Linked DNA regions of Homo sapiens: region 2 is linked to region 1. The links come from fine-mapping of genetic effects on gene expression. A gene starts in region 1. The other region holds a variant in brackets. All regions are shown on one strand. Distances are between the middles of the regions. Region 1 holds the start of MTCH1 (mitochondrial carrier 1). Region 2 overlaps PI16 (peptidase inhibitor 16).

Region 1 (2,899 bases):
GGGATGTTTGATGAAAATTGTGTTTGATGGAGAAAACACAGCAAGTTGAAAGGGTTAGCAGGCTTTGCAAGTGATTTCACTAGGACAAGCCTGGGTTAGGGAGGCCAAGGTGAGGGAGAGAGGGAGTGTGGCATGCTTTGAACGTGGAAAGTACATAGTGTTCATTATCAGGAGTGGGAAGAGGGGAGGTAGCTTTTTAGGGGGTAAGGCAGGAAGGGAGTTAGAAAGGACAGACTGGGAAACCCGGACTAACAGTGGCAGGTGTCGATCTAAAGAAATTTCTCACAATGAACTGGCTATAGACTAAGTACAGACAAAGGGACCAGGTCTTCCATTGCTGTGTCCCTGCACACTCTAGGATCCGTTCAAACAGAAACTTTTATTGCGAACCCCCAAAACTAGCACGGTTCTGTTGTAGGTGTTGTTGCAGAGTGTCGGGCACGTTTACAAACAGGAACAGGGCACTTGCTGTCCTATCTTCCTCGCAGGGTTCTTGTGACGATTACACTTAAATCAACACGTATAAAGCATTTTAAAAAGTGCCTGTCACATAGTCCCTGCAATTTAAGGTCTAGTTGTGATTATTCACTTGTATTAACTAAGAATCAACTACAGGCGCCTAGCAGTGCCTGCATGTGCTCACACTGAGGCACTCACTAAAACCCTCAGGATCTAGTGAGGGAGACAGTCAAATACTTTAGAGCAAAACAAATTTTACAACCACGGACTCTGAGGAAGGCGTGCGAAGGCTCCACAGCTGGGGAGGGTGCCCACAGTCGCCGAGGGGACATCTGGATTTGCTCTGGTTGGGAGAGCATTCCTGGCAGAGGAGATGGAAAATGCGATCGGACAAAGAGGCTGGGACCGCGGAGGGGATCGGGCTCGGGGTCGGGGCTCGTCCTGCAGCAGGAGATTCAGCTCGCGCAGAGTTCCACGCAGGCCGCGGCGACTGGGATCTGGGCCGCAAAGGGGCGGGCAGAGAACTGCAGAGAAAACTCCCGAAGCCAGGGAGGTGGCTTGGAAGCGCCTCAGACCATATTGGGGACGTCTGGCAGCCAGAGGCGCCGAACCCCGCCCCCGCGTGCTCTGGGCATCCCGGGGGAGCGCCCCGGCCTGCGGCTGCCGCCACAGCTCCCGAGCCCGGGGCCCCGGCTGCCCGCCACCATTGACCCCCGGCCCGCAGCCCAGTGTCCTGCTAGGCCTCCAACCGGCCGGGGAGCCACATCCGGCGTGTCCCACCCGCCGCACCACGCTCCCGAGCTCCCCCGCGGCCTGGAGTGGTGCGCCCCGGCCCCGCCCCCTGACGCCGGTGAGGGGGCGTGGCCCCGTCACGTGACGGGGAGTGACCTCGCCGCCGGGCGCCATGGGAGCTTCGGACCCGGAAGTGGCGCCCTGGGCTCGCGGCGGTGCCGCGGGGATGGCGGGAGCCGGAGCTGGAGCCGGAGCTCGCGGCGGAGCGGCGGCGGGGGTCGAGGCTCGAGCTCGCGATCCACCGCCCGCGCACCGCGCACATCCTCGCCACCCTCGGCCTGCGGCTCAGCCCTCGGCCCGCAGGATGGATGGCGGGTCAGGGGGCCTGGGGTCTGGGGACAACGCCCCGACCACTGAGGCTCTTTTCGTGGCACTGGGCGCGGGCGTGACGGCGCTCAGCCATCCCCTGCTCTACGTGAAGCTGCTCATCCAGGTGGGGGACCAGAGGCGCCGTAGGGAGATGGGAGGCTGATGTGAAGGTGACAGGCCAGGATTTGGAGGATTGGGGCGGGCAGTCAATGGCGACGGATTTGGGGAGAGGGGTGGGGACGGCGGGTTTGGGGGGCCGAGTGGGTGGGATGGGAGGGAAGCCGTGAGGGAGTTGGGAACGCAGGGGTCACGGGTTTTAGGATACAGAAAGGAGACCAAGGGGTTAGAGTAATAACAGATACGGGAGAGGGTGGAAGGAACAAGCGATTTGGGGGAGTGCCAAGGAGGGAGCGATGGGCTGGAAAAACATATTTGGGAGATAAAGGAGTGGGGACGATGGACTTGGGATAGGGAAGGGAGCGAATTTGGGGCGAGGGAAGAAGCAATAGAATTGGGGGAGGGGCAAGAAGTTTGGGTGAAGAGATGGGGAGGAAGGTTGGGGGCCCAGGCAAAGTGTTTAGAGAATGAGGAGCACATAATTGGGGTAGAGGGGAACGGAGGCTCTGGATTTGATAGAGATGGATTTAAAACGTCTTGGGGTGGGGACAAAGTGGGCGCCAGGGCCAGAAATTTAGGAGGGAAAGAAGGACACCAGACTGGGGGTGGACAGAGGAGACGGAGGTCTTGGGTTGCATTGTGATTTAATTTGGTGGGAGAGTGCGAAGGCAAAGACTTTTGCAGGGGAATGCTATCGGTTTACCGGAGATGGGGGCTCTGGATTTGATGGCGACGACGGATTTGGTAGGAGGAGGGGACAGGGTGACGCGTATGGGGGGAGGGGAACAGATAGGGCCAGCATTGGGGGAGGGGAGTGGCAGCGATTTGTCTAGAGAGGGGAGCTAGGAGGAGGCTTTAAGCGGGGAAGGGGGATGACGCATTTGGAGGAGGAAATGGAAGTCATAGTTGGGGTCAGAGAGAGGAATCACAGTGCTTGTATCTGGGCAGATGAGGAGAAGGGGCACGGGAGTATTGAAATTGGGCAGAAGGGACAGTGGAGACATAGGTGGCAGGATAGGTAGGGACTACCAGAAATTGAGACCGAGGTAGGGATGTCTCTGGAACAGAGGGATGCATAGGCACTTGGCAGATTTGGTGGTGGCCAGCAATGCGGTACAGATGAAGTGTGCTGCTTGAGGAGTGAGCTGGAATGAAGGGCGTGTGGAGGTGTGAGAATTAGGTGGGTGTGGCTGGGATGGGTACAGTTTTGATGGGGGTCATT
Region 2 (2,899 bases), 22 kb after region 1:
GAATAGAGCTGGAAAAAACATAGAGTAGACCGGGCGTGGTGGCTCACACCCGTAATCCTAGCACTTTGGGAGGCTGAGGCCGGTGGATCACCTGAGGTCAGGAGTTCAAGACCACCTGTTGACCAAACCCCGTCTCTACTAAAAATACAAAAATTAGCTGGGCGTGTTGGCAGGTGCCTATAATCCCAGCTACTCGGGAGGCTGAGGCAGGAGAATCGCTTGAACCCGGTGGGCGGAGGTTGCAGTGAGCCGAGATCACTTCACTCCAGCCTGGGCGACAAAGCAAAACTCTATCTCAAAAAAAAAAAAGAAAGTAAAAGAGGGGAGTGTCCTCCTTGGTTACAGGTCGGTTCCCAGCCCTGGCCTGACTTGGGTGGTGTCCTGTTTGACTGCTCACCTTCCAGCGGTGGTCTGGAGACTTGCTCTGCCCCTCCCTACCACCCAAGCCACCCTCAGTCATCCACCACTGCTACCCCAGCATATGTGTGCTTTCCTGATCCTCAGCACCTCTGGACAGTCCTGCTTTGCTCCCCTGGGGAGGGTCTGGGACTCCAGATCCCTTTCTTAGGACTCTTCCAAGCACCTGGGGCTGGCAGAGCCTTGCCTGATGTACATTTCTGACCTTGTGTCCCAGACAGGCCTGGATAGCAGCGCCCCCGTGAAGAGGCCGCATGCCATGCTTTGATCCTGGGCTCCAAACCTACCTAGGCCCCACTGGTGACTCCTGAAGCTGGGGGAGTCAGCCCAGCACCCTTGGCCTTCCTTTGGCTCTTCCCCTTCCTGCCTGCCACCTGTGATTAGGGGGAGGCGAGAGTTATAGGAAGGAAATGAAGGGTGGGTCCCAAAGAGGAGACACTAAATGGAGTGTTTTAGAGGAGGGGGATGAGAAAGAGAAGGAATAGTTGCCACAGGTTGGACAGGTTTTTATTGGAGAGTCAGGAGTTACTTTCCTTCCCTCGTCCCTGCCTCCCCCACTCAAAGAACCCCACTCCAGTGGGGCTTGTCCTTCATCTGCCCCTAGGAATCCCCATCCCCAGCTACACAGGCACTCAGGGAGAGCGCACATGCTGTGTGGGCAGACAGCCCCAGGCCAGGTAGGCAGTGAGCTCCCTCAAATCCTCCCACCCCCAGGACTCAGGAGGGAGGGGCAGGAGAGGTGTGGGCCCGGTGTGCAGTCCTCAGGCGGCCTCCTGAGCTCGCAGCCAGCCAGGCCTTGTGCCTCCAGGATGGATGGTGTGATGAGGCACATGCCCCGTAGCCTTTCCCTTCCGGAGGGCCTTAACCAAGAAGTATCTTGTTTAGGGGCTGGGGACAGGGTGGGGAAGATGACAGGAGGACAGCTGACCTCTTCACCCTGAGAAGGCAAGAGGCACTTCTGGGGAACAGTCCTGGACTCAGATGGCTCAAGGAAGAGGCCAGGGGACTGGGAGGGGCCCGGGGGTTCCTGGGAAGCCTGAGATCCTCTGTCTGGGAGAGAAGCTGATGGCCACAGGACAACCTGAGAGTGGGCACATGTAAATACCGCTCAGAACAGTCTGCAGCCAGCTGAAGGATGGGCCTACCCAGAGCCAAGGCACTCCTGGGGCAGTGCCAGGGGCTGGCCCTGTAGACGCCTCCCAGGAGGACAAGAGTGCTGGCCTGGAATCTGGCCAGAAGTTGGGGTGAAGGGGGGCTGCTGGGCCACAGAGCAGGACC[T/C]GCCCAGGAAGCTGTGGTCTCTCACTTGGAGGAAGACAATCCAGGTGGGTATGAGGCCAGGGCCCCCCTCACCAGGCCTTGCCTTTGAGTGGTATCCCCTTCAGAAGATTCCAGCCAACACCAGAGGAGGCAGGAGCAGTAGTCCCAGGAGAGGGCCCCACACATGACCAGGGCCCGAGTTCAGCCCTGACACGACGCTAGGCTTGTCAGGGCCCTCTGCACCTGTGGGAAGAAAGAGGCTTTGCCTCAGCCTAGAGACAGCTGTGCCTGATGTCCCGCCCACCCCACCATGCAAGGAGGTGGGGCAGCAGCCAGGGAGGAAGCTCCTACTCAGAGGGTGCATGCCCCACCATGCTCATACCACCTATGCTGGGGCAGGATACTGACATTCCAGAGCCAGGAGGAAAGTGGGACAGATGCTATGGGCCTTACCTGGCAAGGACGACTGCAGAGCCAGGGCACGCCCACCCGTGGCATTAGCGGTGGCAGAGGTATTGGGGAAATTGGGCAGGGACTTGGAGGAGGTGTGCCCCGTGTGGTCCAGTGTGGCCTGCAGCTCACCTGGCTTGTCCTGGGCTGGAAAAACTGAGGCCAAGACCTCACTGGAAGGAGGCAACTCAGCCTCAGCCTCAGCCTCCTCCTGGGCATGGGGTAGGAGTTCCCTTGCCCCTGTCAGGGACATCTTGGGGTCCAGAGAGTTCTCTGGGCTCCTAGAGGGCACTTTTGTTTTGTCTGTCACTTTGTCTGCTGATTTTGGGATAGGAACATGGGTCGATTTGGGGAAGGTAACTGGCTCCTCATCCAAGGAGGGCAGGCTGTGAGCTGCCAAAATGGAAGGGACCTCAGTTGTTACGCAAGGTGGAGCCTCTGTTGCCATGGAGGGCGGGTCTTTCGTTGCTAAGGAAGTTGGGGCCTGGGTTTCCACAGCAGGCAGAGCCTTGGTTGCCAGGGAGCCTGAGACCTCTGTTACCAAGAAAGCCGGAATCCCCGTTGCTAGGGAAGAAGGAGTACCCATTTTCCTAGAGTCTGATGCTTCAGTCGCCCGGAAGGATGGGGCCTCAGTTACCAGGTAAGGCAAATCCTGAGCATCTTCCGGGCTTCCGATGGGTTCTGATAAGACAGACGAGAACGGGCATGAGTGCTGCAAGCAGGACCCCACATCTCTCATGGCACTGCAAACCAAGTGACGCGACCAAATGTCCTA

What was found.
Region 2: its variant is fine-mapped to the expression of MTCH1 in whole blood (TOPMed, PIP above 0.99).

Annotation. Positions count from the first base shown.
Region 1 is chr6:36,984,638-36,987,536 of GRCh38, reverse strand. MTCH1 (mitochondrial carrier 1) reads left to right here and starts at 1,341. Exons shown (of 12, transcript NM_001271641.2): 1 at 1,341-1,684. The coding sequence starts at 1,364. RefSeq lists enhancers at 737-946, 1,065-1,787 and a silencer at 1,037-1,626.
Region 2 is chr6:36,962,841-36,965,739 of GRCh38, reverse strand. PI16 (peptidase inhibitor 16) reads right to left here. Exons shown (of 7, transcript NM_153370.3): 5 at 2,128-2,805; 6 at 1,778-1,917; 7 at 903-1,354. The coding sequence ends at 1,796. Among named protein-coding and RNA genes, the nearest start is that of PI16, 9.6 kb to the right of the region's middle. RefSeq lists enhancers at 1,470-2,094, 2,095-2,720. The variant T/C (reference allele first, on the strand shown) is at 1,696.